4 linked regions of the Homo sapiens genome follow. Changing the gene in region 2 together with the main gene of any one other region gives a genetic interaction. Each region holds a gene or a part of one and is shown on either strand. Other genes may lie near its edges.

Region 1 (8,367 bases), on a different chromosome or scaffold from region 2:
CCACATCCTCAGTTTGTCCGTTCCTTTGGTGTAAAACAGAGGGTGCAGAGCCACTTCCAGCACTGGTGTCTACCTCACTGTTTTCATTCCTTCTTTCAACATCAATTGATATGTCTTTTACTTTACCTGGGCTTCTTTTATGCTTAAGTTTGACAGTTTCAGCATATTTTTCTGTATTCAGGCCTACAACATGATCAACAGCAATGCCATCCTTCTTGCCATTCTCTACTGTTGCTTTAATTGTCTGCTTTAAATTGGGCTCTGCATTTAAGTCATTTTCTTTCTTGGCCATGTCCACTAAGCCACCTTCTTTGGTAATATTCTCATTTTCCACAATCACGCCCGTTAACTTACTTCCAAGAGGCATGATTACCTTTCCTTGTTTACCATCCAATAAAGTAGCCTGGTGAGCTTCTGGAATGTGTCTTTTGCTAGTGATGCTTGCTTTTGCTGGTGTATCTACTGTGAAACCTTCACCACCTTCTTTGCTGTCACTTGTCTTAAGGACTTCTGATTCCCTAACAGTCAGACTTTGGTTAGGGAGAGCAGAGTGATCCGCAGGGGAGGTGCTGGCTGTGCTACCTTCCAAAACAGTTCTTTTGTCAAACAGAGGAATTACATCTGGATCATACGATTCCCTCAGAGGCACAACAGTCACTGAACTTAAGGATGGTGAGGAGTCTAAATTTGTGGAATGTTCAAGAGTGGCATCTCCTTGAGCAACATGTTCTTCAGCAGCTGTGTTTTTCAAATTCTTCTGTACCCTATCATTTTCTGATGGGGCACTCAGTAACATTCTATGAACAGTTTCAGAATCTATATTCACTTCAGTAGTTCCTCTATGAATGGGTTCTTTCTCCCCAGGGTTCATTTTGGACACAGCACTTTGTATATGCATTTTCTTGGTCAAGGTGCTTCTATGATCGGCATGCTTTTCAGAATTACTATTAACTCCTGTTCCACGGCCTGGCTTATAAGCTGGAGCTGTTGCTTTTGAATCTGCTGTGCAAGTTCTCAATTCATCCTTTTGAACAGTGGCAGAAGTTTTTTGTTTCATATTTTCAGAGTCAATGTCTTGCTGAGAATTATTATTGCGGTTGTCTTGGGTTTTAGATACTTCAAACACATTTTCAACACCTGGCTCAGAATCAATTTCCATTGGCTCTTGTTCAGGGATCAATGTCATATCACCACTCTTTTTTGGTCTCTGAAGGGAGGAACCGCTGGGAGTGCTCAAAGTGTTTGCTGCTAATTTTTCTTCTCCTTTGGCCATTTCTTGTGACAAGCTTCCTCTCCGATTTTCGCACAACCTTCTACTTAATTTCTTTTCCATGAGTGAACTATTACCTCTGGCCTTTTCATGACTACTGTCAACTTCTTTACCATCCTTGTCATCTGATTTATTTTCGTCCTTCTTTTTTATGTCTTTACTACTATGCTTTAAGCTTCTGCTTTTGTGGCCATCTGACAACTTTCTCTCAAGCCTGGTGGAAGTGGAGTCTTTATCACTCTTATATTTCTCCTTTGCTAATGGTAACTTGGCTCTATGACTAGAATCCTTCTGTGTACTATGTGCTGAAGAAGAAGCAGTCTCTAATACAGGTTCAACACCAGTTTCTTCAAAAGGTTTGTCTTCAACTTTAGACTTACGCTGTTTTTCTGAGTCATTTTCTTCTGTGTTCTTCTCCTTGTCTGGTTTTGGAGTGGTTGCCTGTTTTGTGGCACCTTCTTGTAATTCTGTTTCTACAACTTTTACCTGTTTGCCTTGAGTTTTTGATTTAGACTTCAACACAAGTTTCTCTTCTAACAAGCTCTTTGTTCGTCGTTTCTCCTTGTGAACAACCTCTTCTGGTTTCAAATTACTATCCATGTTAGTGGAGTCCATATCACACTTATCTTCCGAATAACTTTCACTTCTTCTCTGTAATGTGATACCATGTTGCTTGGAACCCAGAGAATCTTTCTGAATTTTAGAATCACTTGACCTTCTTGATTTGTGCTCTGCCTTAGTTTTTTCAGCTGACAAGCGTCTCTCTTTTTTGTTGTTTTCTTTACGAACATTCTCATCTGTTTTTATAATATATTCAGAAACTGGCTTTCCATCTTTGCCTAATACTGATAATTTCCTTTCATTCCTATGTTTACTTTTTCGTTCGGTTTTATCATCTGAAGAAAGCTTTGTTTGTTGACTTTGCTTTTGAATATTTTCCTCTACTTTTAAACCTTTCTCAGAAGAGTGAAGCTCAGTCTCATCACCTGTTTTATGCATACAATCACCTTTATATTTATGTTTCACAGACAATTTGTCTTCCGATGGAGTTTTCTCTCTTTCAGGCTTCTCCTTGGAGGATTTCACCTCTTTCTTAAGTAGGCTTTTCAAATGTGGTGTTTCAGAATCATCTTTCTTTAGATGCTTTTCGTTTTTAAGTGTGCTTTTCTGTTTCTGGGGCTCTTCGGTGCAAATTTCTGAGCGTTCTACTTGCCTTTTTACATCTCTTGTGTCAGTCTCTTCCTGTACCCCCTCCATGATAACAGGGGTAGATGTCCGTCTTTTATGTTCTCTTTCTAATTTGGATTCATTTTTGTTTTCGTCAACTACATGCAAAGACTCTGAAAGTCTCCGGGCAGGTTTACTTGGTTCACTTTTTGCATGAACATGCTTCAGCTCCTTTGAAGAAGAAATTTTTTCCTTTTCACAATGCTGAAAGAAAACAAAGGTTAAAATATGAGAAATACCAAAATCAATTTTTAGATTAAAACATAACATTTGGGTGGATTTAATATGTTGAGTGCTGTCACATATGTAACATCTCACTTAATTCTTACAAACAGCCTGTGTAGGTGTCAAAAACTCACCTGATTTTAAAAAATAAGTATTATTAACTTGATTTTAAGAAGCTAAATTCTTCAAAGAACTAACAGGAGTTTGCAACAACCATATTTTACAATAAAAAAACTAATTCTAAACAATATGAACAATTTTATGAGATTATTTCTCATAGAGATTTATCACAAAATAAAGTTAAATACTTAAAAATATGCCATTAAAACATCAGGAAATTGTAGCTCAGCATGATTCTATAACTTGACACTCAGACCACAAGTAGGTGTGTTAGGAATGAGTTTAGATTATTTCATTCCGAGTCTAGTACTCCTTCCAGTATATCACAGGCACTGATTTGTCTATGAATTCTTCAATTCTGAATCACTAGAACTCACTAATGCCCAGTACTCAATAATAAATATGAGCTGAATAAATGACAGTCAAATGTCCTTTTCAGTCAAAAACATAATACATGAAGGCAATTTAAAATTGAAATATACTGAAATATAGATTTCCTATATTTTAATTTAAAAAGCTGAATTATGTATGGAAACCTCATGAATTTAGGCTACTTGTACAATATTCTACACATGAAGCTTCAAATGTACACAATAACGCACAGTAACCATATCATATATAACATATGTATATGTTTATGTATTCAAAAAAAGATACGGAGAGACAAGAGCATCTAAACCTTCCTTCTGGCCCTGTGGTTTGGCACTAAGTAGGCGATTAATATTAATGAGTGGAGGTTGACTAAATCCACTTCAATAATACTCACTGACTACTAGCTATAATTATTCTTATGCAAATAATGGGCCAAAGTTCAGACGGACCTTTGTGCCTCTAGGTCAGTTTAACACTTCATCTCCTTAAATGTCAACACAAAGATTAATGTACTTCTACTAATAACAGGGTCCAGGACATAACAAGACCTTATTAAATAGCTTAAAATAAAATTCCTCAAAGAACTAACAGGAGTTTGCATCAACTTCACAATAAAAAACTAATTCTAAGCAATGTGAATACTATTTTATGAGATAATTTCTTATAGAGAATTATCATAAAAGAAAGTTAAATATTTAAAAATATGTCATTAAGCCATCACTATATACTTCTAAATACGCCTTTAATTTCTGAGTAAATAAATTAAATTTATGTTTGCTGATGATGAACAAATAATCACTAACATTGCTTTTTCCCTCTGGAAATATTAAGATAGTTTAGCTACAGAACTACAGATAATGTGGTTTTTGTAAAAAAGAATTTTAAAACAGTGAAAGCAAAAGTTTGTCCCACGAAAATAATCCTGAAAGGGGGAAGAAAACATTGTACGTTACTTTTACTGTTTAAAATGATCAAATCTTGGAAACAACCTAAGCGCTAAAATATAAGGACATGCTTAAATAAATTATGGTATGTACATTATATGTAACACTAGACAATCATTAAATAATTAGGATGCCTAGAAGGTAACATGAAATGAGTAAAATGTTAAAAACAGTTTGCCAGATTACTTGTACTCTAAAAAATTATGTGGACCCGTGGATAAGGAATGAGAGGGAATAAAAAGGATAATTTGTTATAGTGGAGGGATTTTAGATTTTAATTTTAGCCTCCCTTTTTCTTTTTTTGTCATTACTGGCATTTTTGTTATTGCAATTATAAGAAATGGGAAAAGAGAAGAAGAGTAGCTATTACCTAGATAAACGACAAATATATAAATCAACTCAACAAAATGGGCAATTTGGGACATAACAAAATGGGGTTTCAAAAATGCTGAATGTAAGTTGACTTTTTATTTGACTTGAAAAAAGTCAAATTACATTCTAAGTTTTACTCCAAAGGAATAAACAGCCTATATCTAACAAAACAGCATTTGAAATGAGGTTTTATTAAGGCATACCTCACTTGTTTTAAGGGTTTCTTTGGAATCTTCTTCATATTGCTGTTTCTTTTTGGAGTTCTCTTCAACATTCCTAAGGGGGAAAGAGTCAAATATAAAGCATGAATCAAATACGAAAATTTTTCAGGAAGGTTGAAAACAATAAAAATCTTTCCTTTACTATAATTTTTATTTATCTTATTTTATTATTATTATTTTTTGAGGTGGAGTCTTGCTCTTGTTGCCCAGGCTGGAGTGCAATCACGCAATCTTGGCTTACTGCAATCTCCGCTCCTGAGTTCAAGTAATTCTCCTGCCTCAGCCTCCCAAGTAGCTGGGATTACAGGCATACGCCACAATGCCTGGCTAATTTTGTATTTTTAGTAGAGACAGGGTTTCACCATGTTGGTCAGGCTGGTCTCAAACTCCTGACCTCATGTGTTCCACCCGCCTCTGCCTCCCGAAGTGCTGGGATTAAAGGCGTGAGCCACCGCGCCCAGCTGTTTACTATAATTTATACACTTGATCGACAAATGCAGACTTGTTACATTTCAATTTAAATCCTATCAATTATTGGTCAACAAAGGAGAGCACAATCCCAAACATAGCATTAACTGTTCTTGGTGCTAAAGGAAAGTACAGCTGAAACAAAAATTCCTAATTTGTTGCTTAAAGATGAATGCTTTATGGGCTATAATTACACTTCAAAATTACTATCTTTTGAGTAAAGAGGGCAGTCTTATTTATTCAGATCAATAAGGATGAGAGGTAATAATAGTAAGAAATTTGAGAGCTTACTACTCTTACCAAGTTCTGCAAATTATCAAATCAGTTATCCTGAAGTCTGTGATAAATTTACATAAATGCAACTTGATGGAATAGCAAAATTGCAGCCCATGGCTCACATGACTTCATAGCTACCCTCAAGAGTCTCTTTAGCTTTCTAATTCTTAAAAAGTTAACGATGATAATGCAGGGTTAATAAGGAATCTGGCCCAGATTCTGGGTTGGGGGAGAATCATGGAATACTGGTAAAAATAACGGCATGGAAAGACTGGAAATAATAATTGAAAATAAGTGGTTACTGAACACCAACAAGAGGAATACCTCCAGGGAACTTCTAGAGGATTCATAAACTCTTAAAGTCTAGGGATAATTGTTAGCTTATGCATGTACATTTTTCAGGGGAGAGGGTCTAAAGCTCTCACCAAATTATCAAAAAGATCTGGGACGCCCAAAAAGATTAGGATACACTACTTAGAAATGTTATAGATATTAACATTTTGATACTAAATATGAAACCCTAAGGTCCTTCATAAACATGCAGTAACATACACAACCAAAGTACAACTCTTTACTGTCACTTCAATTCCTCTCTTCTGAAAGCACCCAGGGGAGTGTTATAAGGGAAACATGACCAGATAAAATATGTACCTTGAATCTTTTTTTCTCTTTTTGCTTAAGGCTACTTTTTTTTCTAAAACTTTCCGTTCTTTAAGGACTTCTTTAATTCTGGCGGCTTTAGGTTCCAAACTCTTTGTTGATGATTCTTCTAAGTCCACACTACTCCTGCCTAGAAAAGAAGCAATCAATAAAACGTATTTCAGAAAAGTTTTACAAACAATGTAATATTAATTTTTCATTAAGATTTTTCTAATCATTGTTAAAGCCAAAATGGCTTTAATATTCTTAAGTTGTGCTGGAATAGATATAATATTTTGGATGAAGAAGTCTTATCTCTCTTATTTCAAATGATCACATAAGTGTGTGTATGTGTGATTTCATATATTACATAGGATTAGTGCCCAGAGGGAATACAATTTTGTTCAACACAATATTACAGGGAAATGTTTGACATTTTAGTTAACATAAGCATAGATTAATTTCATTAATCACCAGCAAGGGTTGATAACTCATGTGTTAACAATCTACTTTCCAGTGATTCAATCATTACAGAAAAATATACTGCTAACAAATGAGTTGCATAAGCTGGTTTCTGGTAAAATGTTTAATTTAGATTTAGCAATTTAATAAAAAAGAAAAATGATGAAACACATGAGATTAAAACGTAAGGAAATCTTCCACATTTGAGACTAGATCATTTTATTTTATATTCATGTCTCATAAGTAATATAAGAGTACCCAGAAAATAATGAAATATATGAGATAGTTTAAAATATTAAAAGTTGACATCTATACCTTGACCCTTGGTTTTTGAAGACTTTGTCTTTTCTGCTTTCTGTTTTCGTTTTTCTTCAAGTTTTTCTCTATTGATTTGCCTTCTTAAAAGCCTCTCTTCTTTTTCTTTGGCCTAAAACCACAAAATACCCTAACAGATTATTAGGCAAAGGCAAAAACACACTGAAAAATTGTATTTTTTTTAAAGTTTTAGTTTACCCTTCAGATGTTCTTACAAATTAACGGGCTCTGAAAAAATGCACATACACTACATATATATACACACATTTATCTCTGTGTGTATACATACATATGTATGTGTATGTTTCAATCTAGAAGCTACCAGAATAGAAGAAACAGATGTGAAAATTTGCCATTACTCTTTAAGAATGCCATTAAAGAAAGGGAAAGGTATAATTTTGGGGAAAAGTGATTAAATAAGCTGGTTGTTTCAATTAAAATGATAGCTGTGAAAATATCTATGAACATCAAGTATATATAGGTAGGTGTTTATAACTTTTCAACTGTTCTTATAGAAAACAGTTGAAATAAAAATTCAAGTGATAGGCTAGTTCTACAACATATATGACTTGCTGGTTATATGCTTGGGACCCAAGGGACTCAGGACTTGCAGGTCTTTTACAGCAGAAAGAATTCACAGTCATTGTGCTATTCCTACTATCTCTTTCTGGCTCAGAGTGCCAAAAATCCTAAGCAGGTGCATAACTTCTAACCAAGTAATGTTTTCAAAAGATAAGCCTGAAGGGAAGGCTAATCACTACTAGCATTTTGGGGTAGTTTCTTCAAATCATTTTCCTATGTGACAATATTTCCTGATTCTGAACTTTTCATATTTTACAACTTTTCATATTTTAATGTTTCTGAAATTGTAAGCTATCTTAAAACCAATATACATATGTAACAATAAGGTAGTAATTTTCTTTAAAAAGCTGTTATTAATTCAGTGGTACATTTTATAATTGGAAATATTTTTGAATCCAAGAAATAGGTAAATAGCATTTCCATATCAATAGTATGTTAATAGCTGCATACTGTATTTTTGCAGGACTGGATCTACACTTGATTTAAACATTTCCATACTGTGAAGCACTCAGGTTGTTACCAGTTTCACTACTACAGGTTGAGCATCCCTCATCTGAAAATCTTAACTCTTTGAGCACTGACATGCTGTCACAAGTGGAAAGTTCCACACCTGACTTCATGTGACAGGTGGCAGTCAAAATGCAGTCAAAACTTTGTTTCATGCACCAAATTATGAAAAACATTGTATCGAATACTCTTCAGGCTATGTGCATATACATATAAGAAACACAAAGGAATTTCATGTTTAGACTTGCATTCCATCCCTAAGATTTGTCACTATGTATATGCGAATATTCCAAATTGTGAAAAATTCCAAAATTTGAAACACCTCTGGTCCCACCCATTTCGGATAAGGGATATTCACTTGTATTAG
Region 2 (7,643 bases):
CAGACCCCTTACGACAGTCTAGGGATAAGGAGTTTAGGAACGCACCTTCCCTGCCCTCTGGAGTCTCACAGCCTGGTGATTCCAGGGAGGGGCAAGTTCAGCTTCCATGGAAACTGACATCTCGCCTTTGGGAAATTCACTCCTCTAGTTAGAGAACAAGGAAGTTCTGACTGAGATGGTGTTTATCAATCTTCTTCCACAGCCTCTCACTGAACAGGTGGGGAAACTAAGGCCAACATTCAGACTGAAAGGCCTCGCGTGAGCCCCCCAGCAGGTTGGGGGCAGACTCCAGGTCTCTCAGTGCCTGCCCCCTTAAGCTTCTCTGTCCAGGAGGCCTCAGGGTAGCCAGTGAAGGTCTGGGGCAGCTTGGCCTTTGCCCTGATCCCCCTACGGGCCTCACTCCCCTCTGACCAGTTAGACACTGCAGGCTCCGTGCCCTGCCCTGGGAGCCAGTGGTGCTGTGGCTGCAGCCCCGGGACCAACACAGGGTTTCCAGGAGCATTTTTCCCCAGGGTGGAAGCAAGGCCTTGTGGGACTGGCCAGCAAGTCCTGGCAGCAGCGGCAGCTGCAGCTCTTCCCTGGCTATGGGCTCTCAGAGGACGGCTGGCCCATGGTGGGACGAGCACGGGGCAGTGGGCCTGGAACTGGAGACGATGCCGAGCGGGGACAGGAATGGGGAGAGGCCCAGGGAGGCTGGGAACAGAGTCCCAGCTGGCAGCTCTGACAGTCCCAGCTCTGCCACGTCCTCTGTAACCTTGGTACGTGGCTTAACCTCTTGGAGGCTGTGTCCTGTCGAATGTGATGTCTCTAAGGATGAAGCAAGATGACACCTGTACAGCCCAGGGCCCGGCCCCAAGTGAGCTCCAGAGACCAGGGCCCGGCCCCGAGTGAGCTCCAGAGACCGAGGCCTGGCCCCGAGTGAGCTCCAGAGACTGGGGCCTGGCTCTGAGTGAGTGCTAGTCAAGTGTATGATTACTTTCCTCTGGCCCAAGACTCCATCCCAGATGACTTGGCGACTCTGACCCCATCAAACGCTCACACCCAGCTTGTATAAATTCCATTCGTTGATTGGTTTTAATTCGTTGAGCAACAGGTTTTGTTGGACAGCTTATGAGAATAAAAACCAGGGAAGCTGAGGCTCATTACCCTGCCCAGGGTCAAAGACCCGGCAGGTGACAGAGCTGAGATGTGACCCCATTCGACTGCCCTCACTGCCTCCCTGCACCTCAGATTCAGACCCCTCCTTAGGGCCAGGCTCTCTCTCTCTTTTTTTTTTTTTGAGATGGAGTTTCACTCTTGCCGCCCAGGTTGGAGTGCAGTGGTGCGATCTTAGCTCACTGCAGCCTCCACCTCCTAGGTTCAAGCGATTCTCCTGCCTCAGTCTCCCAAGTAGCTGGGATTACAGGCACCCACCACCACACATGGCTAATTTTTTTTATTTTTATTTTTAGTAGAGGCAGGGTTTCTCCATGTTGGCCAGGCTGGTTTCAAACTCCTGGACTCAGGTGATCCGCCCGCCTTGGCATCCCAAAGTGCTGGGATTACAGACGTGAGCCACCACGCCTGGCCAGGGCCAGGTTCTCTACAAGCACTGTCCTGTTTCCAGCTCCCCAAGAGCTTGGAGGCAGCCGGGGTTGTCTCTATTTGATGGGAAAACAGAGCGAGGCCGAGTGCTGGGCCCTCGTGCACAGATGGCCTGGAGAAGCAGTCCAGGTGCATCCTCCTGGAAGGTTGCTGCAACTTCCCAGGCTTGCTCAGGGCCTACCAGTTGCTTCTGCTTTGTGAGAGGGTAGGGTTCTGGCAGGCAGGAGTGTACCCCTCACTTGCCTTTGTCTCCCTGTCCCCACAGAGGAGAGGCGAGCCAGGGAGTGGCTACTAGATGCTCCTGAGCTCCCCGAGGGCCATCTGGAGGACTGGCTGGAGAAGAGAGCCAAGCGGCTGAGCTCAGCCCCAAGTAGCAGGTACAGGTCCCCAGGGTTCCCTCCCGCTGTGCCCCCTGGGGGCAAAACCCCAGCCCGCCTTCCCCTTCCTGAGGCTCAGGAATCTCCATGAACTGCCCAGGCCCAGGGGCCGAATAAAGTTGCCTACACATAGCTCCCCGAGGAGCCCTTGGGGCCCCAGGCCCTGGCCAGAGGCTGAGGGGTGTTTGAAAGAGCCTCTCCCAAAGCTGGGCCCCTGTTGGAGTCTGTGCTGGCTGGAGGGGAGGCAGGCGGCAGAGCTGATTTGGCTGCAAGTCACAAGTCCGTTGCCAGAGGGAGGGGCCTGGGCTGTGGTCACCATGCACTGCTGCCCACTGTTGCCTCTAGGGCCTTGCAGAAGGGAAAACAGGGAGGGTGCGACTTGCCCGAGGGCACACAGACGGGAAAATGTAGAGCCGGGATTGCACAGGCGTGATGACGAGGTCCTGGTCCCACTGCCTTTCTAAGGAAGGGGGTCTGGAGATGGCCCCAGCCCTCGGGACGCTCACAAGTAGAAGGGGAGCTGCTGGATCGGGGTCCTTGGGGTGTGTGCTTCGTGATGTCCCTGGTCCTCCTCTTTGAGGGAAGGGCCTCGGGTGATATTCACATCAGAACGGGGCACAGGGCAGGCAGGGGCAGACAAAGGCTGGCGGCCAAAACCGAAGCCTGAGCTCCTGGGCTCTTCCTCCAGCAGTTGAAGGAGGGAGGGGAGGAAAAGGGGATAAAGCTGCGCCCAGGAGCCGCATGCGACTTTGAACACGTTTTCCCATCCCGACTACCTTGCTTTCCCCATCTTGCAACGGGCTTCAGACCTGACTACCTCTGTGGTGTGGCTTCACAAAATGGTGGCCTGGCCTGGGCCAAGGGGACCTGGCCAGATAGTCTGGGGGAAGAGGCCTTCCCTTGGAGCTCTGCCAGGAGGTGAAGGCCAAACTTCTTGCCTTCTCTGTGCTCCAGTGAAAGAGACTATGAGGGTGTTTTTTTTCTTTCTTTCTTTCTTTTTTTGTGATGGAGTCTTGCTGTATTGCCCAGGCTGGAGTGCAGTGGTGTGATCTCAGCTCACTGCAACCTCTGCCTCTGGGTTCAAGCGATTCTTCTGCCTCAGCTTCCCAAGTAGCTGGGATTACAGGCACCCACCATCATACCTGGCTGATTTTTGTATTTTTGTAGAGATGGGGTTTTACCATGTTGGCCAGCCTGGTCTTGAACTCCCGACTTCAGGTGATCCGCCTGCCTCGGCCTCCCAAAGTGCAACGTGTTGGGATTACAGGCATGAGCCACCACACTCGGCTTTTTTTTTTTTTTTTGAGACGGATTCTTGCTCTACCGCCCAGGCTGGAGTACAGTGGTGCAATTGTCTCATTGCAAACTCCACCTCTTGGGGTTCACGCCATTCTCCTGCCTCAGCCTCCTGAGTAGCTGGGACTACAGGCACCCGCCACCACGCCCGGCTAATTTTTTTGTGTGTTTTTAGTGGAGACGGGGTTTCACCATGTTACCCAGGATGGTCTCAATCTCCTGCCCTCCTGATCCACCCGCCTCAGCCTCCCAAAGTGCTGGGATTACAGGTGTCAGCCACCGCGCCCAGCCTTTTTTTTTTTTTTTTTTTTTTTGAGATGGAGTCTCGCTCTGTCACCCAGGCTGAAGTGCAGTGGCACGATCTCGGCTCACTGCAACCTCCGCCTCCTGGGTTCAAACATTTCTCATGCTGCAGCCTCCCAAGTAGCTGGGATTACAGGCATGCACCACCATGCCCGGCTAATTTTTGTATTTTTAGTAGAGACAGAGTTTCGCTGTGCTGGCCAGGCTGGTCTCGAACTCCTGACCTCAGGTGATTCACCTGCCTCAGCCTCCCAGAGTGCTGGGATTACAGGCATGAGCCACCGCACCCAGCCAGTAAAGGTGTTTTAAAACTAACTTTGTCTTTTACCTTTATTTTAAATCCGTGTTCAGTTTTTGTCTCCCCACCTTAAAAGTATATGTGGTACAGACATGACTCAAACGTTGGAGTGTGACATTCTCTCCTCCTGGTCCTGTCTGAAGGGTCCCGTCTAAAGGGGTTCTATCCTGTCTTTGTGCATGTGAGCACCTCCTTTGGGACTGGTTGCTGTCCAGGGATCCACGTCCTACACCCCAGACTCCTTCAGCCCGTGTGCAAAAGGCTTGAGCTGGTTGGAGGCTGCCCAGAAAGCTCTGGCCCCTGCACCGCTACTTGGACAGGATCTCCTATGAGTCCCATCCTCACTCTGCCACCTGCTAACCGAGTTGCACCAGCCACTCGCCTCCCTGCTCTGGGTCCATGGTGTCCTCCGCTGGGAGCGAGTCACAGAGGCCCGGCTGTCTCTTGGGGCTGTGACAAGGTTTCATGGAGTCCCTGTGGCTGAACTGGAGTGAGCACCAATGGGTGGGGTAGAGATGGGGTGCCCCAGAGTCCTTGCCTGGGTTCCAGACAGATGCATCCCTGTGCTGAAACAAGGCGCTATGAATTTGAGACTTGGGGGACTAGGGTACCAGATGGGGAAACTGAGGCTGAATGACTGGCTCCTAGTCACAGGTTGAAGTGGTGACCATATGAGAATTGAGTTTGGTGCTTACAGTGTTCCCAGTGTTTGGGGGCATTCAGGGAGATTGGCACCCCCATTTTGCATCTGAGGAATCTTAACCTCTCCAGGAGGTGGGGCCATCCTGATCACACGTGCCCTGCTGCCCTTAGCCCTCACTTGAGAGAGAGCTAGGTCCCTGCTCTGTGTCTAGACCCCAGGCTGCCTCTGACACCAAGTTCAGGGCTGGCCCAAGGCTCTGTGTGGCTGTGGGTAGTGGCAGTGGCAGCAGCAGGCTGCCCTGATGGCAGTGACTGTTTTGGGAATGATTGTTCTGCAACTGGAGCCCACCTTGGCTGTAGGGGGTCTGAGCCCTGTGCTCTGGGCCATTGTCCCTCTGGCCACCCAGCCTGGCCCCTTCCAGGGGATCTGCCACCTGCCTTCCTCCTGCCTCCTGAGGGCTTGGGGCCAAAATGAATTGTTCTCTAGGCAGAGCAGGCCTGTCCAGCCTTGAGAAAAAGGGGCTGTGGGAAGGGAGGTGACCGTTTATTCCTGCTTTTGCCATTGCTGCCTTGGGCGTCCATAACTGTCTCCGGGCAGGCTGGTCTCCTGAAGCCTAGCAGCCTTTCCCTCCGTCCTGGGCTTTGAGCCCCTCCCCTGCATCCACACCCCCTACCCTGCTTAATGGGAGGGGGTGGATTCCAGCCCCAGCCCCCGCAAGGCTACCTCACTTTCTTCCTGGCTCCCTCTCCAGCCTGGAGGCAGTGCTGCAGCAACAATGTTCTTCCTCCACCCTGGCTCTCCTGGGCACCCCAGCGGCCCCTCCCTGGTCTCCCACCTTCCCTCTGCTCCCGCGGGGGATCCTCCACACAGCAGCCCTGATGCACCCTGGCCCTGGCGCTTCCCCACATCCTCCACCTCTGGCCGCACAGCCCCATTTGCAGGGCTGGGGCTGGGGCTGGGGCGGGGGACCCTCCCTGATGCCTCCGCAGCCAGTCGGATCTCACCTTCTCACCTCTTGCCTCTGGCCTGACTGGTGGTCCCACTGGACACTCGGCAGCAGCTTAGATGAGGCATCATTTGTGATTTTGGAGCACCTTGCGCATGCTATTTTCTTGCCTGAAACTGCCTCCCACCTCTCTGCCTGGCAGAGTCAGACTTGTCCTGGAAGCTCTAGCTGAGACATCACCCCTCCCAGCCCCCGCTTCTCCTGCATGGCCTGGGCAGACTTGGGGGTGCCCAGGACAGGTTTACTGCATGAATGAGCATTTAGGCTGCTGTTCGGGCGTTCCCCAGGTGTTAGTGCTGCGAGCCTTTTGTGGGGCCTGGTCTGGAAGCCTGGGGGACCCCCTCTTCCTCTCAGGGTATCTGCTTCCTCCCCCAGAGTACAAGGCACAGAGAGCTGCCCACCCCACCTCGGGGAACCGAGACCTGCGGGCTCCAACCTCCGCTGGCTGAGCTGAGCCTCTCCAGTGAGCCAGGCCAGCCCTCCTTGTAAACATGGGGAAGTGGGGGTCCATGAAGCCCCAGCCTGGTGGCATAGCTCTTATCCCCCTCCGCAGACTGACCCTGAGGGATCTGTCAAGAGCAGCGGCGGCCTCAGACACACAGACTAATCCCTCGGCAAGGCCAGGCCTGGCCCTGCTGCCCATTGTTGGCTCTTCAGTTTGCGACTCTATCCCTCTTAATCTCTCCTTTGCACCCCTCTCTGGGCGGGCGCTGCCATCCTGGCCCATCCTCCTCCTCGACTCTGTTTCCTCTGATTAGGACCGCGGCTGGGAAAATGCAAGAGAGTGGCTCCTGTCCTCACGCACAGGACAAACAGGTCACCAGAGAAGCTACGAGCAGAGTTGTGCCAGACACGCACCTCAATGTCCCCAAGGCTTTGGCTCACGTGTCTGGGGCCCTGGCAGTGTGCCAGTGTGTGTGAGCAGGCACTGGGTATGCCTGTCTACTGGCGGGACCTCAGGGCAGGCAGGGGCACGGGGCTGAGACTTGGACCCAGGAGGTCCCAGGTTCCCAGGAATCTGCCCCATTTTCTAGAGGAAGGGCCTGAGGCTCAGGGGAAGGGGCTCCCCAGGATCACACCCTCCCTGGGGATCCCCACTGTCCCTGTGGCCCTGCAGGGAGCCCAGGCTTGGCTGGCAGCTAGGGCACTCCCTTCCAGCAACTGCGGAGCCTCCCCGCCTTCTCTGCGGCTGGTGGAGTTTATGAAATCTCCCCAGTGCCATAAATCATGTCAAGAGCTGCCTTCTGCACTTTCTAGCAGGCAGTGAGCCATGAAGCAGGGGATGTCCCTGTCCTCTCACACCTGGGGGTCCTGGAGGCTGCACCCAGAGCTCCCCGGAGTCCTTGACTCTGCATGGCAGGTCTGGTCCAGAGAGGGGCAGGTTGGGTGGGTGCAGCAGGGGAAACTCCCAGGGCTCCTGACCCCGGCTCTCCACCTCCCCCTCGGAGGTCAGAGGCCTCTCCAAACCCCTCTCCGCAGGCCCAAGCCCTTCTCTCTCTGCAGAGGGCTGGCCACTGGGCCCCTGAGCCTGCCAGGAGCTGCCAGGGCCTCACCTTGCCTGAAGGCTGGATGTTGGGGTGTGGGAGTGTGCCAGAGCAGAGGGAGCTGAAGTGGGAAGGCCGTGTCTGCAGCCGATGTGGGGCTGGTATTCCAGGCCCTCAGGCCTCATCCCGAGGGTGTCACTTGGTCACGTGACTGACTCCTTGCACCTCAGTTTCCTCATCTATAAAATGGGGTTCGCCTGAGGATTCTTAAGGTTTCTCTAGGTCATGGTGTGTGGCCCAGAATAGCACCTGGTCAGTAAGATCTTTCAGCATTGCTGTTTGTTCCACAATCACTGGGTGGCCTCCTGGCACCAGGCCTGGCCCTGCGCCTTGGGGTACAAATACACCTTACCCCTATCCCCTGGTCTACATCCTCTGGGGACTCCAGTCCTAAGTGGAAGACAGATGAGCTCCTGCCTGAATTTTGGCGGCGGCTGCATGGCACTCTCTGCTGTGGATGTGGATGTGCATGTGTACTTTTTTTTTTTTTTTTTTTTTTTGAGAAGGAGTCTCGCTCTGTCGCCCAGGCTGGAGTGCAGTGGCGCGATCTCGGCTCACTGCAAGCTCCACCTCCTTAGTCCACGTCATTCTC
Region 3 (7,853 bases), on a different chromosome or scaffold from region 2:
GGGTGACTGGGGCTCTACAGACTTGAGGCTGATTCTAATCTATCCTCTGCCACTGGGGACTGAGCTGCAGGATCTTGGGCAAGCTTGACTCTCCAAGCCTCAGCTGCTTCATCCAGTCAACAGAGCTCCCATTTGTAGCCCAATCTTGCATCGTTATTCAGAAGCTTCAAGGCGCTAATGGGAACCACCCATGTGGGGACCTGGCCCACACCTAGGGTGTATCAGGAAAATGAGGGCTATGAGACTCCCATGCCTGGGGAAAGCATCAGGGGATGGTCCATGATAAGGAAAGGGACAGGGGCTGAAGGCATGGGAGTTGGGGGGAAATGGTAGGGTCAAGGAATTGTGGAGTGGAGGAGCAGGCAGGTGCTTACTTGGTAATTCCAGGAACAGCTCCCACGCTGCATGCGCGGCTGCGCTTCAGGCTATTGATCAGGCTGCTCTTCCCAACATTGGGAAGACCTACAAAATAGCAGCAGATGGCTCAGGGCAGAAGAGGCCCTCAGGAACACTCAGGCCAGCCTGTGTGAGGGAGGCCTAGCCAGGGGTAGTAACCAGGCCATGGGGAAGCCAAAAAATTGAGCCTGACCTCCTCCCTTCCCACCCCAGGCCCTGACAAAGCCCCTACAGGGCCTTTCTACCTCTCCCCTCCATTTGTGAGCATGCTAGATAGGTATGTCCCTCTTTCTAGACGTGACACCAACCTCCCACTCACAATCAGCCAGGCAGAGGTCCTCAATGCAAGGCCTCAGTGGCACAATCCAACAGAAGGTGGACATCGAGAAATGTCTAAGAAACAGAGAACAACCTGTCTGGGTGTATCATTCCATGGATGGGGATGGAGGTCATCTCCAGATGCCAGTCTCTCTGTGCAGCTGTCTACCTGAGGTGTGTATTTTGCTGTTTGTGCATCTGTCAGCCATTCTCAGCCTGTGGATGTCTTTGTGTTTCCCCTCACTGGGCCTCATTCTCACCGTTCTCTTTCTGTATGTGCTCAATTTACATGTGTGTACTATTGTCTCAAGCATATGCTTGTTTCAACCCGAGAAAGCTGATTGCCTAAAGAAAAAAAAGGTATATGTCTAAGTATACCTCTCGTGCATGAAGCCTCTGCACACCTCTCTCCCCCCTCCCTCTCTCTAGGTCATTCTCATTCTAAATTATCACCATGCATGGAAGTCTCTACACATCTCTCTCTCTCTCTCTCTCTCTCTCTCTCGGTCATTCCCATTCTCAGTATCACCACTTTTTCCTTTTCTTGTATCTCTCCCACTCAGTCTCTTTCTCTATCTTATCTTTGTTTCTCTCTGTGTCTCTGTATCTAAGCACCTCTTTCTCTGCCAATTTGTCTGTCTCTCATTCTGGCCATTGTTCTTTTCTCTCTGATTCTCTCCACCCCACCAATCCTGCCTCTATTTGTAATTCCCTCCATGCCAACTCCTGTCAGCCTCTGTCCATGCTCCTCATCTCTGTGGGCTGGTCACTTCATGGATGCCTCTCTGTATGTGTCTCACGGTGTCTCTTCTACTCTCTCCCTGTCTGCGCCTCCTTAACCTCCTCTCTGTATGTCTCTATTTCTCTCTGTACAGGTACACATACCTGCCTCATAGTGACATGTCTGGTATTTGTGTCCCTCTGTAACTCTAGGTATGTGATTATGTTCGAGGGTCAAAGTGTATGTGGGCACATGCGTGTCTTCTTTTTTTTGAGACGGAGTCTCGCTCTGTTGCCCAGGCTGGATCTCAACAGTGGCACGATCTCAACTCACTGTAACCTCAACTCACTGTAACCTCCACCTCCCAGATTTAAGCGATTCTCCTGCCTCGGCCTCCCGAGTACCTGGGATTACAAATGCCCGCCACCACACACATCTAATTTTTGTATTTTTAGTAGACATGGGGTTTCGCCATGTTGGCCATGCTGGTCTCAAACTCCTGACCTCAAGTGATCTGTGCGCCTCAGCCTCCCAAAGTGCTGGGGCTACAGGCATGAATGAGCTGCTACATCCAGCCCTCCTTGTGGTTCTATGCGCGTTGGGGGAGCAGCGTTGGGGTGGGTGTGTGTGGGAAGGGCTTGGTCTACATGCATTTTGACTGTGGTTCTGTCTCGCTAGATGTGCCTCCTCTGGATCTCTGGGTCTGTAGCGTGGGTCTGTGTATGTGTTTGTGGATCTGTATGTGTACTTAAGAGCTATGTGTATGTGTTCCTCTGTATCTACAGCCTTGTCCAGTCTGCTTCCATGTATGTCTCTCTCTGAATCTGTCTCTATCCCTGTAGTATGTTTTTCTCTCTCATTCTTTGAGAAAACATGTCTGCCTCTCTACATACATGGGTTATCTCTACCCTTCCTATGTCTCCCTCGGCAGATCTCTGTATGCATGTCTGTTTCTATGTCCCTTTTGGTGTTTCTGATTGTATCTCCCTCTTTACATGCCTCCATCATGTAAATCTGTCTCCTCTTTCCATTCCCCACCAATCCTGCCATCTGGCTTCCCAGTGCGTTCTCTGTGTCTTCTTCTGTATCTATCCTGGTATGCATACCTATACCTTCTCAGTGTCTAGCTCTCTCTCCAATGTCTTTCTCACGTGGCTTCACATTCTTTCTCTGGTGATCTATCTCTGCCTCTCTCAATTTCCCTACTCCATTCCCATCATCCCTCCCTCAGAAACTTGTGCTCCAGAAAGGCCCAGGTTTTGATCCTCAGCTCTGCCTTGTCTTGCACAGGGCTGGGCTCCAAAAGTCCCTTTGCCCTTCTCTGAGCCTCACTCAGAATTCTCATCCGTAAAAGGTAGACGGTCACCCCATCCTCCCATAGCTCTGATAGGATGAGATGGTACCAAGTCCAAGCCTGGCACCCTGTATTTGCTCCATGAATCTAATACTCAATACGCAGTGATGCCCACCCATCCAAGTTACAAATCACGAAACCCTTCTCCTGAACCACTCCTCTCTCCCCGCAAAAGACAATGAAGCTCCCAGGATCCTTTCCCCCAGCGAAGTGTCCGCTCAAGAAAGAAGCCTGAGCCCCATGACCACACAGCAGGTCTTACCCACAACACCCACACGAATGTGGGTGCGCACTTCACCAAGGCGGCAATAGTTCCCCAGAACCCTCATGAGGTTTTCAGCTCCAAAGCAGGCTTTGCTTTTCAGCAGTGACTCAGAGGCCTGATCTACTGGCACACTGCAACGATTCTGGAAAAAAAAATTGAATATCACAGAAGAGACATCAGGTGGCAGATGAGGTCTGAGCCCAGATTTCCAACTTTCAGGGCCTCCCTATGATCACTGAGCTCCTCAGCCTGAAACGGAAGGCTTCTCACACAGATCTTGAACACGTGTCATTTCCCCATTCCCCTCCACTGTCTTTGTGTCTCCAGTCTCCTCTGCCCCTGCGTCTGCTTCGACACATGTCACTTGCCTCCCTCGGCAGTGGCAGGATGGCATCCTGGCTCTAAATAGGCCAGGTTTGAGCTCCAGGTCTACTTCTCACAGGCCTATGTCCAGCAAAGCCTGCTTCCCTTCTCCAGGCCTCAGTGCCCTGTGTGCACAACAGGGATGCCCACCCTCCCTGCCTGCGCAGGGATGAGAGGGAGCCTGGCCCACAGCCTACCCTCCCTCAATTCCTCACACAGGACAAAGCCATCCCAACCTTTACTCCTGATGCCACTTCCTCTGCCCAGAATTCCCTCCCTCCTCTTCCCTTACTTTTTTTCTTTGAGACAGAGTCTTACTCTGTCACCCAGGCAGGAGTGTGGTGGCACAACCTTGGCTCACTGCAACTTCCACCTCCTGGGTTCAAACGATTCTCATGCCTCAACATCCCAAGTAGCTGGGACTACAGGCATGCACCACCACACCCGGCTAACTTTTGTATTTTTAGTAAAGACAGAGTTTCGCCATGTTGGTCAGGCTGGTCTCAAACTCCTGGCATCAAGCAATCTGCCCACCTTGGCCTCCCAAAGTGCTGGGATTACGGGCATGAGCCACCACGCCCAGCCACAGCATTGTTTCCAATATCACAAAATTGGAATTAGCCTATATATCCATCAATAAGAAACAGGTTAAAAAGCTGTAGCCTTAAAGTGGAATACAAATGAAATACAGCTGTTAGAAAAGGTGGCTTCTGGCCGGGTGCTGTGGCTCATTCCTGTAATCCAGCACTTTGGGAGGCCAAGGCAGGCGGATCACTTGAGGTCACGAGTTTAAGACCAGCCTGGCCAACGTGGCAAAACCACGTCTCTACTAAAAATACAAAAATTAGCTGGGTGTGGTGGCACGCACCTGTAATCCCAGCTACTCGGGAGGCTGGGGCAGAAGAATCACTTGAACCCGGGAGGCAGAGGTTGCAGTGACCCAAGATTGCACCAGTGCACCCCAGCCTGGGAGATAGAGTGAGACGTCATCTCAAAAAAAAAAAAAAGAAAAAAAAAAGAAAGAAAAGGCGGCTTCTATTTTTGCCATCAAAAAGGCCAAGAAGCTGGGCACGGTGGCTCAAACCTGTAATCCCAGTACTTTGGGAAGCTAAAGCAGGTGGATCACTTGAGGTCAGGAGTTCAAGACCAGCCTGACCAACATGGTGAAACCCTGTCTCTACTAAAAATACAAAATTAGCCAGACGTGGTAGCACATGCCTGTCATCCCAGCTACTCGGGAGGCTGAGGGAGGAGAATCACTTGAACCCAGGAGGCAGAAGTTGCAGTGAGCCGAGATCGTGCCATCCCACTCCGGCCTGGGCAACAAGAGTGAAACTCCATCTCAACAAAAATTTAAATTTAAATTTTAAAAAGGCCAAGAAAATGTAAATAAGGTATCATGTTTCTGAAAGGTTTAAAAGTTTAATGCTATCAAATGTTGCCAAGGGTGTAGGAAAAGAGGCCTCTCACACATTCATCTACCCCACTGGTGGGAGTATAAATTGGTACAGCCATCACGGAGGGTGATTCATCAGTGTCTAGGTAAAGGTAAAATGCAGAAAGGCTATGACCCAGCCACTCCCTTTCTCTACCTCACCTACAAACACACACTTGCCCATGTGCCAAGGAGACATGTACAAGGGTATTTGTGGAAGCCCAGGTTATAACGATAAAAAACTGGAAACTAATTGTATTCAGCCTCGAAAAGGCACATCTCTATAGAAAGATGTCCAAGAGAAAAAAAAAACTAAGCCACAGAATGATATACATAATACTTCCAAACAGTATTCCCTCTTTATATATACACTTCTATGTATATCCAAAGCACAGAATAACATTTGGAAGAAGGCCGAGTGCAGTGGCTTACGCCTGTAATCTCCGCACTTTGGAAGGCTGAGATGGGAGGGTCACTTGAGGCCAGGAGTTCAAGACCAGCCTGGGCACCAAAGCAAGACCCTCCCCCCATCTCTACAAAAATAAAAAAGATAAAAATTAGCCTGGCATGGTGGCATGCACTTATAGTCCAAGGTACTCAGGAGGCTGAGGCAGGAGGATGGCTTGAGCCCAGCAGTTTGAGGCTGCAATGAGCTATCATCACGCCACTGCACTGAGGCCTGGATGACCAATTGAGACCCTAAATATCTGTATCTAAAATAAATAAAGTCTGGAAGAATGCACACCAAACTGTCAATGGTAGTTACCTCTGGGCATGAATAAAGGAGACTAGAATTAGGGAGACTGGTGAAAGGGTATTTAAGCTTTATCTGTAGTTAATTTTATTTTTTCTACTTTATTTTTAAATAAGTTTAACATCCAATGCAAAATTGAAAAAAAATGTCCCTTAGTATCCAATTTTTCTCCCAGAAACAATCAGTTTCTGTATTAATATTTTACAAACCATACATATTTCTCTATTAATGATATAATTGGGAAGAACTGTGATTTGTTTCAAAGAGAAAAATGATTGGAGGTATACGTATTTTTTAAAGTTAACAAGTAGTTGGTTGTGCACAGTGGCTCACAGCTATAATCCTAGCATTTTGGGAAGCCAAGGCTGGTAGATCACCTGAGGTCAGGAGTTCGAGACCAGCCTGGCCAACATGGTGAAACCCTATCTCTACTAAAAAAAAAAAACACAAAACTTAGCCACAATCCTGGCTACTCTAGAGGCTGAGGCACAAGAATCACTTGAACCCAGGAAGCAGAGATTGCAGTGAGCCGAGATGGTGCCACTGCACTCTAGCCTGGGTGACAAAGTGAGACTCTGTCTCAAAAAATAAAAAATAAAGTTAGACCGGGAGTGGTGGCTCACGCCTGTAATCCCAGCACTTTGGGAGGCCAAGGCGGGTGGATCACCCGAGGTCAGGAGCTTGAGACCAGCCCGGCCAACACGGCGAAACCCCGTGTCTACTAAAAATACAAAAATTAGCCAGGCATGGTGGCACATGCCTGTAGTCCCAGCTACTTGGGAGGCTGAGGCAGGAGAATTGCTTGAACTTGGTGGGCAGCGGTTGCAGTAAGCCAAGATCATGCCATTGCACTCCAGCCTGGGCAACAGAGTGAGACTCTGTCTCAAATAAATAAATAAACAAACAAACAAGTAGTTAACTGTATTTTACAAATTCCCTATAGACATTATGTTTTATCCTTACAACTGAAAAAAAAGAAATGCTTCCTGAAGAGTGATAATACAGGAAGAAGTCAAGTGAAACTAATATTAAGAAGTCACTGGCCAGGCATGTTGGCTTATGCCTATAATCCCAGCACATTGGGAGGCCGAGGTGGGTGGATCACCTGAAGTCAGGAGTTCGAGACCAGCCTGGTCAACATGGCAAAACCCATCTCTACTAAAAATAAAAAAATTACAAAAATTAGCAGGGCATGGTGACGCGTGCATGTAATCCCAGCTACTTTGGAGGCTGAGGCAGGAGAATCATTTGAACCCAGGAGGTGGAGGTTGCAGTAAGCCGAGATCACACCATTGCATTCCAACCTGGGCAATAAGAGTGAAACTCCATCTCAAAAAAAAAAAAAAAAGTCACTCGGTGGAGCAAAAAGCTCAAAGTTGAAGGCCCAGTTCAATTACTAAAGGGCTGGAGGTCCCAGTCCAAGTCACGACCCTCCCAGCTCTGGCCCCAAACTACCCTGAAAGCGGCTAGATGACCCTAGCCCCAGGCTTACCAGGTTTTTGACCTGATGCTGGGTACTGGCCTTGAAAGCCACGGTTGGCAACTCATTCCGAAGGTAATCCAGCCATTTCTCCACAACCTCCTTGGGGACCAGGTCTGGGGTAAATATAGGAACAGATGGGGCTGGTAAGCAGAACAACACCTCCATGGTTCCCTCCAAAGACACCTCCACCCGTACCCAAAGCTAGGCCCACCTACCATCAACAGGTCTCTCAACTGGCCCTGTCATTCCCATCCAGTCCGCAGGTTGGAGTTAGAAAGGATAGTCTGGTCTACGGGATGCGTTAGCCCTCCCTGAAGGGGCCTCTGTTCCCTCAGGGAAAATGGACAAACTAGCTATCTGGTCCCAAATGTTCTCTTTCCAAAACAGCGCCAGGAGCATCAGAGACCCCCCAAATATTGTGTTTCCTATCCCCTCTCTGGATCATTCTAGGTTGGGCCAAATGACAAAGATAACCCTAAAAAGAATGGCTATCATGTGTGAAGTACTGACCACCATGTACCAAGCATTTTATCATTAATTCTTACAACAAATCTGTGAGGTTGGGATACCCATGGCCCATTTTACAGCTAGAGAAACAGGAGCTCTTGGAGGTGGCATGACTTATCCAGTGTCTCAGAGAAAAGAATCAGGACAGGTGGGAGGCTGAACCCTAGACATGAGTGACTCCTGAGCCCATGTGCTCCTCTGCCCCAGTCTTTGAGTTGAGGGAGGAGGAACTCTCCAGGGTTGTCCAAAAACAGAGA
Region 4 (3,262 bases), on a different chromosome or scaffold from region 2:
TCAAGGCTGCAGTGAGCTTTGATCACACCACTGCACTCCATTCTGGGCAACATAGCAAAATCCTGTCTCAAAAATATTTATCAGTAGGAAATGCAGGAGGGCACAGTGGCTCATGCCTGTAATGCCAACGCTCTGGGAGGCCAAGGCAGGAGGATCACTGGAGGCCAGGAGTTCAAGACCAGCCTGGGCAACATAGTGAGACCCCATCTCTACAAAAAAAAATTATCCAGGCAAGGTGGTACATGCCTATAGTCCCAGCTACTCAGGTGGCCAAGGCAAGGGGATCGCTTGAGCCCAGGAGTTCAAGGCCACAGCGAGCAATGACTATGCCTCTGTACTCTAGCCGGAGTGGCAGAGCAAGGCCCTGACTCTAGAAAATAAAAATTAAAATGGTAAAAAAAAAAAAAAAAAAAAAGTTTAATTGCCAGAAGAATTCCTTCACTGAGAACTTGTCCATCCTGTGTTTCAGCATCAATTCAACCAAGAAATGAAGGAGCAGATTCAAAGTGGTTATTTTTATTATCTTACCTCCACTGGGTTTTCAGTCCCAATGGAGATTGTGAGACCTGGCAAGACCTTGAGATCAGTAGCATCCCTGAGGGGTAAACACAAGACTGGTCCACTGTCTGCTGCCCTGACTTTCCTACAACTCTTAAGAGGTTTGCAGTCCCCATTCCTCATAGCCAGCCATAGAAATCTTTCCCTGAAACAGGAAACACTTTGGGCAGCAGAGCTTCTCATCCCATTCCAGGTAGACAACCACACCCCTAAACACTCCTCTCCATAACTGAAGGTCAGAGGGTGAAGGGAATAGTCTCTGCTCTCTGTGACCAGGAACTTCACTCGTTCCTTTCCAGCATCATTCCTGCTCTCAAGCGCCTGAGTCTGGGCCTTTTCTACCTAGTGGGCTACACACTGCTCAGCCCCCACATCACAGAAGACTATCTCCTCACTGAAGACTATGACGTGAGTGTCTACTAAAGCAGCAGCAGCATGACTGCACCAGAGCTAGAAAATGGACAGGCAAGGATCCCTACAGATAGCAGAGAAGTAGGAAATATCATCTACAAGTGCATGTTGGTTTTGCTCTAGATCTGTGAGTTGTCAATGCCAGCCGTGCTGGGACATGTTCATCAGCCAGCACTGAACAACCTTCGCGGGCACAGGGCTGTGCCAGGTGCACATTTAGCACCCGTTGCCTTCTCTAGGAGCCGCTCCTAGCTTGCCTTATCACATCCACGTGACCCCTCAGAGCACAGCAGCTTCTGATTCTCCATCCTATTTTCTTCTCTTGACTGATACATTTGGGCACTTCTAGGGAATTCAGAAACCAAGGGAAGGGGGGAAGTGCTGGCTTTTGCTCCTGCCCAGCTGAAAGGCTTGAAAACAGTTCAGTAATTCTGGGCAGGTTTCTCTCCTTAAATTAAAATCCAATATGGGCCCCTCTGTACTTAACATTCCAAATGCTCATTCCAAACACTTTGCCAACGAAGGCAAACAGTAGAGAAGTTAAATACAGTGCTGCCCTTGAGGCTCTCCAAGGGAAAGGCGAATGAATATTCTCCAGGCCCTCTGCTTATTCCTCTCTGCCTATTGTGAAGGCAATCAGGCCAGACTATTGAGGGCATCTGGCAGCAGGACTCAGGCAGGTATGAAGTAGCCAGCCACAAGTGTGAAAAGGAAGAGTGCTGAGAGAAACTGCCTAGTCATGTGATATCCCTAATGCACTGTGCTTTCTTCCCTCAAGAACCACCCCTTCTGGTTCCGCTGCATGTACATGCTGATCTGGGGCAAGTTTGTGCTGTACAAATATGTCACCTGTTGGCTGGTCACAGTAAGTAGAAAAGTTGAAACAAGGTCCTATTTAGACAAGCCATGGGGGCCAGTATGGGGAGTGGCAAGAGCCCTAACTGAGCTATTCCCTCTCAGGAAGGAGTATGCATTTTGACGGGCCTGGGCTTCAATGGCTTTGAAGAAAAGGGCAAGGCAAAGTGGGATGCCTGTGCCAACATGAAGGTGTGGCTCTTTGAAACAAACCCCCGCTTCACTGGCACCATTGCCTCATTCAACATCAACACCAACGCCTGGGTGGCCCGGTGAGCTGCTGGTGGGGAGCCTGGACCCTGGTTCCTTCCTTCCACTGTCTTCCCAGATTGGAGGGCAGGGGTGTACCATGTCACCCCTATGCGTCTTTCCCATCTGGGCAGAACCCCCTGTCGCTCACACTGACTTTGACCCCCACCTATACCCCCCTCCCAAAAAAACCATTACTGTCATATTTGAAAAAAAGGCAAGATATAAAAGTGCGTTAAGACCTGGGTGTTACTCCAGCTCTGCCAATGGACTTATGTCCTCCACTGCCCTGTTTATCAACAGCTTTACTTGTTTGTCCCCACCACTAGAGTGTGGGCAGCTTGAGTAGAGTGTCTGGTTCACCACTGATCTCAGCATCAGCCTCAGTCACTGCTGCTGAACCAAGTGGCTCGTGCGCACACGGTCTCCAGCTCCGCCTTGGGTCTGCTTTCCATCTCTAAAAGTAATCAGTCAGCACTGCCTCCTGTACCCTCTGGGGGCTACACGTGGGAACCCACCAGCACTCCAATCCAATCCTCAGGGTGAGGACCCAGAGGCAGGTGGCGGGATGCAAGGACCAGTCAGTTTGAGGGTCGCCCCACCCACCCTTTTCTCCAGCTACATCTTCAAACGACTCAAGTTCCTTGGAAATAAAGAACTCTCTCAGGGTCTCTCGTTGCTATTCCTGGCCCTCTGGCACGGCCTGCACTCAGGATACCTGGTCTGCTTCCAGATGGAATTCCTCATTGTTATTGTGGAAAGACAGGTAGGCCTCCAGGGTGGGGGTGAAGGGGAATATAAGGGACAAGATGCTGATGAGCTCCTCCTCCCTCCCCAGGCTGCCAGGCTCATTCAAGAGAGCCCCACCCTGAGCAAGCTGGCCGCCATTACTGTCCTCCAGCCCTTCTACTATTTGGTGCAACAGACCATCCACTGGCTCTTCATGGGTTACTCCATGACTGCCTTCTGCCTCTTCACGTGGGACAAATGGCTTAAGGCAAGTGAAGGCCTGCTTGTGAGACTGGGAGGGACTCACTGCAACCTCAAAGGTTGCAAAGGACACTCCAGGCCTGTCTACCTTAGTGGCCTCTCTCTCCACAGGTGTATAAATCCATCTATTTCCTTGGCCACATCTTCTTCCTGAGCCTACTATTCATATTGCCTTATATTCACAAAGCAATGGTGCCAA

Evidence for each region.
Region 1: changes in ZMAT5 (region 2) and BOD1L1 together harm fitness more than expected from each alone (negative genetic interaction), as found in Homo sapiens cells (one large-scale study listed by BioGRID).
Region 3: changes in ZMAT5 (region 2) and GNL3L together harm fitness more than expected from each alone (negative genetic interaction), as found in Homo sapiens cells (one large-scale study listed by BioGRID).
Region 4: changes in ZMAT5 (region 2) and EMG1 together harm fitness less than expected from each alone (positive genetic interaction), as found in Homo sapiens cells (one large-scale study listed by BioGRID).

Annotation. Positions count from the first base shown.
Region 1 is NC_000004.12:13,602,384-13,610,750, forward strand, and holds part of BOD1L1 (biorientation of chromosomes in cell division protein 1-like 1), read right to left. Parts: intron 7,024-8,367; coding exon 6,912-7,023; intron 6,286-6,911; coding exon 6,147-6,285; intron 4,807-6,146; coding exon 4,734-4,806; intron 2,702-4,733; coding exon 1-2,701. UniProt on the Homo sapiens protein: Component of the fork protection machinery required to protect stalled/damaged replication forks from uncontrolled DNA2-dependent resection.
Region 2 is NC_000022.11:29,732,648-29,740,290, reverse strand, and holds part of ZMAT5 (zinc finger matrin-type protein 5), read left to right. Parts: intron 1-1,849; coding exon 1,850-1,961; intron 1,962-7,643.
Region 3 is NC_000023.11:54,543,572-54,551,424, reverse strand, and holds part of GNL3L (guanine nucleotide-binding protein-like 3-like protein), read right to left. Parts: intron 7,203-7,853; coding exon 7,099-7,202; intron 3,197-7,098; coding exon 3,052-3,196; intron 463-3,051; coding exon 375-462; intron 1-374.
Region 4 is NC_000012.12:6,977,175-6,980,436, reverse strand, and holds the end of EMG1 (ribosomal RNA small subunit methyltransferase NEP1), read right to left. Parts: coding exon of another isoform or gene 3,175-3,262; 3' UTR 3,071-3,174; coding exon of another isoform or gene 2,912-3,070; 3' UTR 2,840-2,911; coding exon of another isoform or gene 2,692-2,839; 3' UTR 2,097-2,691; coding exon of another isoform or gene 1,930-2,096; 3' UTR 1,835-1,929; coding exon of another isoform or gene 1,748-1,834; 3' UTR 967-1,747; coding exon of another isoform or gene 858-966; 3' UTR 501-857; downstream 1-500. Other genes in the region: LPCAT3 (lysophospholipid acyltransferase 5), read left to right, coding at 858-966, 1,748-1,834, 1,930-2,096, 2,692-2,839, 2,912-3,070, 3,175-3,262. UniProt on the Homo sapiens protein: S-adenosyl-L-methionine-dependent pseudouridine N(1)-methyltransferase that methylates pseudouridine at position 1248 (Psi1248) in 18S rRNA.